2 separate regions of the Homo sapiens genome follow, and region 1 is reported to be linked to region 2. The links are microRNA targets in miRTarBase. Many come from high-throughput screens and were not tested one by one. Region 2 holds a microRNA gene; the other region holds the end of a gene's coding sequence.

Region 1 (3,000 bases), not on the chromosome of region 2:
ATACCCCGCCTCCGCTGCCAGGAGGGAGAGCTCCCAGATATCCAGGTCAGACTCTCCTCATTCTTGAATTATCTGCACAGTCCCTCCCACGTCCCAGCCTAGAAAAGCTTCTGACTCCTGGGCCTCAAACTGCAATGCACCTTTCAGTGCAATAGGAGCTATCCAATCTCCAGCCGCGTCCATCCGCCCACTCGAGCCCACCTGTTTGCGGACCACAGAGCGGCAGCACATCCCTACACGGGGCTGTCAGGCAAGGTCAACGCGCTAGAGTGCAAGAGCCTTTGCTTTGCGGATTGCCGCAGCGCCGGGTGTGGGCGCAGGTGGGGATAGAGTGCTGGGTTTTGAAAGAGTGACCCGCAAAGCTGAGGGTGCAGAGCAAGACACAGATCTGGGAAGAGCAGAGAAAAAACGCTCCTGCTTCTGAACCCCTCCCACCTCGCATCACCTGACAAGTCTCTCAAGGTCTGGTGTCGGGAAACCCCACCTCTTCAAAGCCCCGCCCTTCGAAACACCAGAAAGTAACCCCCCTGCCCGGCCCTGCTTTCCCCCTACCCCCTGCCAAGCTGCAGTTTTTTTTTTGTTTTTTTTTTTTAACTGGGTGAGGGCTAGAAGGAGCGGTAGAGATTGATTCATTCTAGCCAAACCACCTCTCTTAACAAAAAAAGGAAACTGAACCCCGATTGGCGAAATGTCTTGCTCAAGTCCATAAAGCGAGACCACCGGCTGATCTGGACCCTTAGAATCTACCCACCCTTCTCCACCTCCCCTCCCCAGCTACCTGTTGCCATGGTGATGAGAACAGGCTCCTGCTGAGGCTCTGGCTGTGGTCGCAAGAGGCTGGAGAGGCTGAGGACTGGGCTGGATATGCTGACCATCAGCCAAGCCCCATCCAGGGCCCGCGGGCAGTTCTGCGCGGGGGTCAGGCCGCTGGCCCATTTCGCAGAGGCGGGGAGAGGCACGAAGCGGCTCATCTCGCAGTGTGGTGCGGGGGCGCCCCGGGGATACCGCCTGAAGGCAGCCTGGAGGGCGCCCGCGGGGTCTGAGTGTAGAGAAGGAAGTTGCAGCTGTAGAGTCACCGCCGGGAAAGGGGCTGGAAGGGCAGCGTTCGGGGAACTTCAAATGCACAGACTACCCCGTAGTGAGACTCACTTTACAAAGGGGAAGCTGAGGCCTGAGGTCACTGCCGGATCTAAAGAGGAGGGGGTTTCGGTGGAGGCGACAGAGGTAGGGGGGCGGCGAGTCCCTAGAGACTCACCGTGTACACTGAGATAGAGCTCAGGGTCGAGGTCCGGCCGGGGCGGCGGTTCCCCCGGTCCCTGGCGCAACAGCAGTGCACCGGGTCTCTTGGCCAGGCCCTTTCCGCTCGCATCCTCCACGAACCAACACTCGATCACCGCGGGTCCTGCTGAGACGGCGGTCGCCAGGCCTGGCGTATAGGGACGCGAGTGAGGAGCGGTTTGTATGTCTGGTGACCTGCCCCACTCCCACCCTGGCATCGGCTCCAGTGGGGCCACCTCCCTCCGCTTCCCTCTAGTTCTTGGGCGATGAGTCGCGGGGTTCGCTCACCCAAAGCCACAGCGAGGAGCAGAGACAGGGACTTCATGGCGCTGCGACCTCCTCAGCCATGAAGCCTCCTCTTCCTCCTTTCACTTTCACTTTCCTCCAAAGGGCGGCATGAGGGGCGGTGGAAATCCCCGCTCTGGTTAGGTGAAGGTGCCTGGGGGACCGGTGTTTCCCCACTGGCCAGGCAGGGACCCGGGTAGATCCTCTCCAGTTCTCACCAGGACACCCCAGCCTTACCGCGCCCTCCTGGACTACCCAGCAGCCCCGAGTTCGAGCCCTCCCCAACCCCAGGCCCTCCCCCGCCCCCCAACTCCTGTGTGTGCTCTCCAACATCCACTTGCCCGAAAACCATTACTCCGGCTTCCCCCTATCTGTGCCGCGTCCCCAGCAAACACACGGGTTATCGGGAAGCCAAGTAAATGACCAATAAATATTTTAATCACTGTTAAAAAAAATAAAAACCTTGTACTCCTACGACTTACTCCCTCCTTGTCTCCACCCACTCCTCCATGAGAACCGAGTTGGGAATTTCCACGGGAAGTCGGGGGTGGCGGGGAGAGACAGGGTAGAAATAAAGAGCGCATCCTTGAGAGGGGGTAGGTTCTAGGACAAGGGTGGGGCTCAAAGGCCTTGTCTCCACGACAACACAAACACAGACTTCAGGCACAGACTACAACCACCTGACCCCTGACCCTGTGACTGCAGGATGTTCAACACGCCCCCTCTCCCTCCCTCCATGTGCAATCTACTCTGTGGAGCAGGGGCTTCAGTGTACCCATCAGAGGGAAAGGAAGGGTTTAGTTCTGGAAATACCTTGGGGGGGAGGGGTTGAGTAGTAGAATGGGCGGGCGATGGTGAAACTGTGGTTCCCCTTCCAGAATATATACAAGTCCACAGAGATAAAGGAAGACAGTAAGTGTGGTGGGAGATCACCCGGGGGCCACAGCGCCCTTGCATCGTGCTCCTTATTCCCTTTCCCGAAAGCTACCCCACCCCAGTAGCCTGCCCCTTCAGTTTGCTCCTCCACCTCCACCGAAGCCCATCTCCACCTTGTGGACTCTGGGTGGGGACCAGACACGTCTGCTGGACGGGGGCGTGGCCGCACTCGCTTCGTCGCCGCTGCCCCCGCCCACTCCGGGAGACTCTCTCTTGGACGGCAAGGATGGCCCCGTGGGAGTCCCAGGCCCAGGTACGGCCCCGACCCCGCCCAGGCGGTGCCGGCGCTCACAGTGTCCTCGGTGGCGCATGAAGCTGTCTCGCCACATGAACTTCTTGGCGCAGACTCCGCACTCGTAGGGCTTGAGACCTGTGTGCGTCTTCATGTGCTCAGTCAGATGGTGCTTCATCTTGAACTTTTTGTTGCACACGGGGCAGTCAAACGGCCGCAGATTGAGGTGCATGTTCACGTGCCGGTCCCGCATGCTCTTGTGGGAGAAG
Region 2 (3,146 bases):
GCTGCAGCCACACCGCCAGATGCCAGCCCCAGCTCCACCCTGGGCTGGCTGGGTGCCCTGGAGCAGGTTCCCTCAGCCCTCTGGGCCTCAGTTTCCTCATCTGTAAAGTGAACCTAATAACAGTACTGAGATCAAAGGGCTGAGAGGACTCTACTGCCCGTAAATACCTGTGCACTTAGTAACTCTTAGCTGTGGTTCTTGTTTTCGCTGTTACCATCGTCTCCATTTTACAACTAGGAACATGAAGCTGGGTGAAGAGGGAGCTGCATCTGGTTCCAGGTCTCATGGAAAGGATGCTGTGGAACTGGAGTCCAGTCGGGCCTGGGATGAGGGTGCAGCCAGTGAGACTCTCACCTTGGGCACGAAATGTAAGGGATGCCAAAAAACTCAGTCATGGAGATAAACGGTATGTTAACACAACATTTTTAAAAGTCAGAATTAATGGCAAGACACCCGTGATGAACAAACTATGAACATGTTACAGAAAGATAAGATCAGGAACAGCGGTAATTTTGATTTTCACAAATTTCATGTTAAAATACTATTCATCTCCATGGCTGAGCTTTTTGGTGTCCCTTACATTGTTCCCCCGGAGTCCAGGGCCTGATCCGCCTCAGCCTCCTGGGGATCCTGAGCTGATCACAGCAGCTTCAGGCCCTGGGTGTATATACTCAGGGTATGTAGAGGGTGCTTCCTCCTAAATAAAGACAACAGACGGGGCGGGGCATGCTAAAGTAGTTTCTCATTTAAGTGAGGGTGGGGGAACAAACCAATGTCCCAAATCACAGAAGATTCTTTTTTTCCAAAGAGTTCTGGAACCCAGAAGGGTTTTGTTTTTAGGAAAAAGGCATGAGCTTTGGGAAAAGCAATGGGCCCGTTAAAGCCCATGGATTCTGCCTGCTTTACCATGACAAGAGATGTGGAGGGAGAGGAATTGAAAAAGGCTTTGGGTTGGGGGCGGGGGTACCTTTGCACCTTGCAGGCTCATCTGTCCTGCTGGAGTATTAGATGTGACTTGATTGTCTCTGTGTCTGCAGCTTCTCTTCAAGCCAAGTGCCCTGCCCTGAAGCAGTTCAGGATTTGAGTGCCTGAGTCACGTGGACCCAGGTTCAAACCCCAGGTGTGCCTCCCCGTAGCTTTCTGACTGCTACTCTTGGGCAAGTAGGACTAGTAAGGTGCCTACCCTCATGGAGGTGACGTTCGTGAGATGAGGGGATGGCATTGCTCAGCCTTGGTTTCTTTATCTGTGCAATCAGGGAATAATGGGACTCTGCAAGGGAAAAGGAGACAATGTGTGTGAAGTGCCTGGCACCAGGGTCAGGGCAAGGGTGAAGCCAGTGAGCACCTGGGGGATAAAATGCAGGGAGGCGCTCACTCTCTGCTGCCGATTCTGCACCAGAGATGGTTGCCTTCCTATATTTTGTGTCCTGCTATGCTCACCCTGGTGCTGCCTGGCACATAGTAAGCCTCCAATTAAAATTACCTGCGATTATCATGCACTTAACAATGTTTGGTGCAATAATAAGACTATGAGAGCGAGCTCTAAGATTTTTAGGATTACCATCCGTTTGTGCAAACATAATTAAGTACTCCGAAAGCAAAACATCAATCACCAAGCAGCCCTAAAACATCCAAGGTGATTTTGATCAAGGCACCCCTGCCCCTGGACCCACAAAGTCCCATACCAGGAATCAGGGCTTGGGCAGTTCAGTGAGGACTGGATTTCAGTTCCCTGTGTCCCCTTGTACAGGAGGCAACCTGTAGCACTGTACCTGGCACTCCTGATAATAGCTGCCGTGTTCCTAGCACTGTGCGGGCACACACATGGAGCTGCAGGACTGTGGGGCAGGCAAAGCGGGGTTGTTCTTTCCTCCTGCAAGGTCTTTACTGATGTTGGGGGCAGAGGGCTGGTTCTGCTGGGTGTGCCAGCCTGGCCATGTTGGCGTCACCCTCAGCTGAGCAGTGAGGAGGGCCCCTGGGTTACCTACATTCCATTGCATTGATCGAAGGTGTTGCTTGTTTACTTGGTGACTAATTCTGTCACCATTCCACCCTTCAAAACCACCCCCCCTCCCATTCAACAGTCGTCTAGCTGCCTGCTGGTGATGAAGTTTCAGAAGTGCTTTCTCCAGGCCAGCTTGCATGGGGTTTGGCGTTTGGCCTGTTTCCAGGAGGAGGGCCTATTATTAATCTGTAACTACAAGGAGGCGACATGGACCATCAATCACTGTGTAAAAGAGGAGGGATTTGAGGGCAGCTTCCAGGAGGCCAATTCACTCATGGATCAGAACACAGAACTAACTCAATTATAACAATAATAAGATAAATGAATAATATTAGCAATAACTAACGTTTACTCACCTGAGTACTGCCAAGCCCTGGCGCTAAATCCTTACAGTGATTATCAGTGACCCTTCAATTGTTCAATCCTCACTTTATTTGATTTATTTATTTACTTATTGAGAGAGTTTCATTCTGTCGCTCAGGCTGGAGTGCAGCGGTGTGATCTCGGCTCACTGCAACCTCCGCTTCCTGGGTTCAAGCGATTCTCCTGCCTCAGCCTCCCAAGTAGCTGGGATTACAGGCATTGTGCCTCCACATCTGGCTAATTTTTGTATTTTTAGTAGAGACAGGGTTGCGCCATGTTGGCCAGGATGGTCTCAAACACCTGACCTCAAGTGATCCACCCACCTCAGCCTCCCAAACTGCTGGGATTACAGGCATGAGCCACAGCGCCCGGCCTAATCCTCACTTTAGATTGTACCATATATATTCCTTGCCTAGTTATAATTTTCTCATTGCAAGAATGAATATGCAGGAAATATTTTCTATTCCATGTTCTATTATATTACATATAAATATTTCATAAAACTATAACATCACTTATACAGCAGAAGAGACAGTAGAAAGTATGAAAATAGAAAAGTTAAAAGTCTAAACTCTGGACTTGAGTTTGCGAGGGTTAAGTCCTCATTCTCCCACTTACTAGAAGATGATCTGTATTAGTCAGCTTGGGCTGTGGTAACCAAAACACCACAGACTAGGTGGCTTAAACAACAGTCATTTTTGTTTTCTCATAGTTCTGGAGGCTGGAAGTCCAAGATCAAGGTTCTGGCCGATGCATTTCTGGTGAGACCACTCTTTCT

The links. Region 2 holds the annotated microRNA hsa-miR-4756-3p (CCAGAGAUGGUUGCCUUCCUAU, at 1,396-1,417, shown strand). A microRNA usually pairs through its seed, bases 2 to 8, with sites in the 3' UTR of a target mRNA and lowers its output. Matches are read on the target gene's strand: a 7mer-m8 pairs with bases 2 to 8, a 7mer-A1 pairs with bases 2 to 7 and ends in A, and an 8mer does both.
Region 1: miRTarBase lists ZBTB22 as a target of hsa-miR-4756-3p. Seed matches in the 3' UTR shown: 7mer-m8 at 2,458-2,464.

Annotation. Positions count from the first base shown.
Region 1 is chr6:33,312,439-33,315,438 of GRCh38, forward strand. ZBTB22 (zinc finger and BTB domain containing 22) reads right to left here. Exons shown (of 2, transcript NM_005453.5): 2 at 1,980-3,000. The coding sequence ends at 2,574. It overlaps TAPBP (TAP binding protein), which reads right to left and starts at 1,640. Exons shown (of 8, transcript NM_003190.5): 1 at 1,567-1,640; 2 at 1,256-1,426; 3 at 779-1,039. The coding sequence starts at 1,603. RefSeq lists enhancers at 2,194-2,853, 2,854-3,000 and a silencer at 2,934-3,000.
Region 2 is chr20:54,066,689-54,069,834 of GRCh38, reverse strand. MIR4756 (microRNA 4756) reads left to right here and starts at 1,350; the gene lies at 1,350-1,427. All of the region lies in intron 1 of BCAS1 (brain enriched myelin associated protein 1), which reads left to right. RefSeq lists an enhancer at 1-522.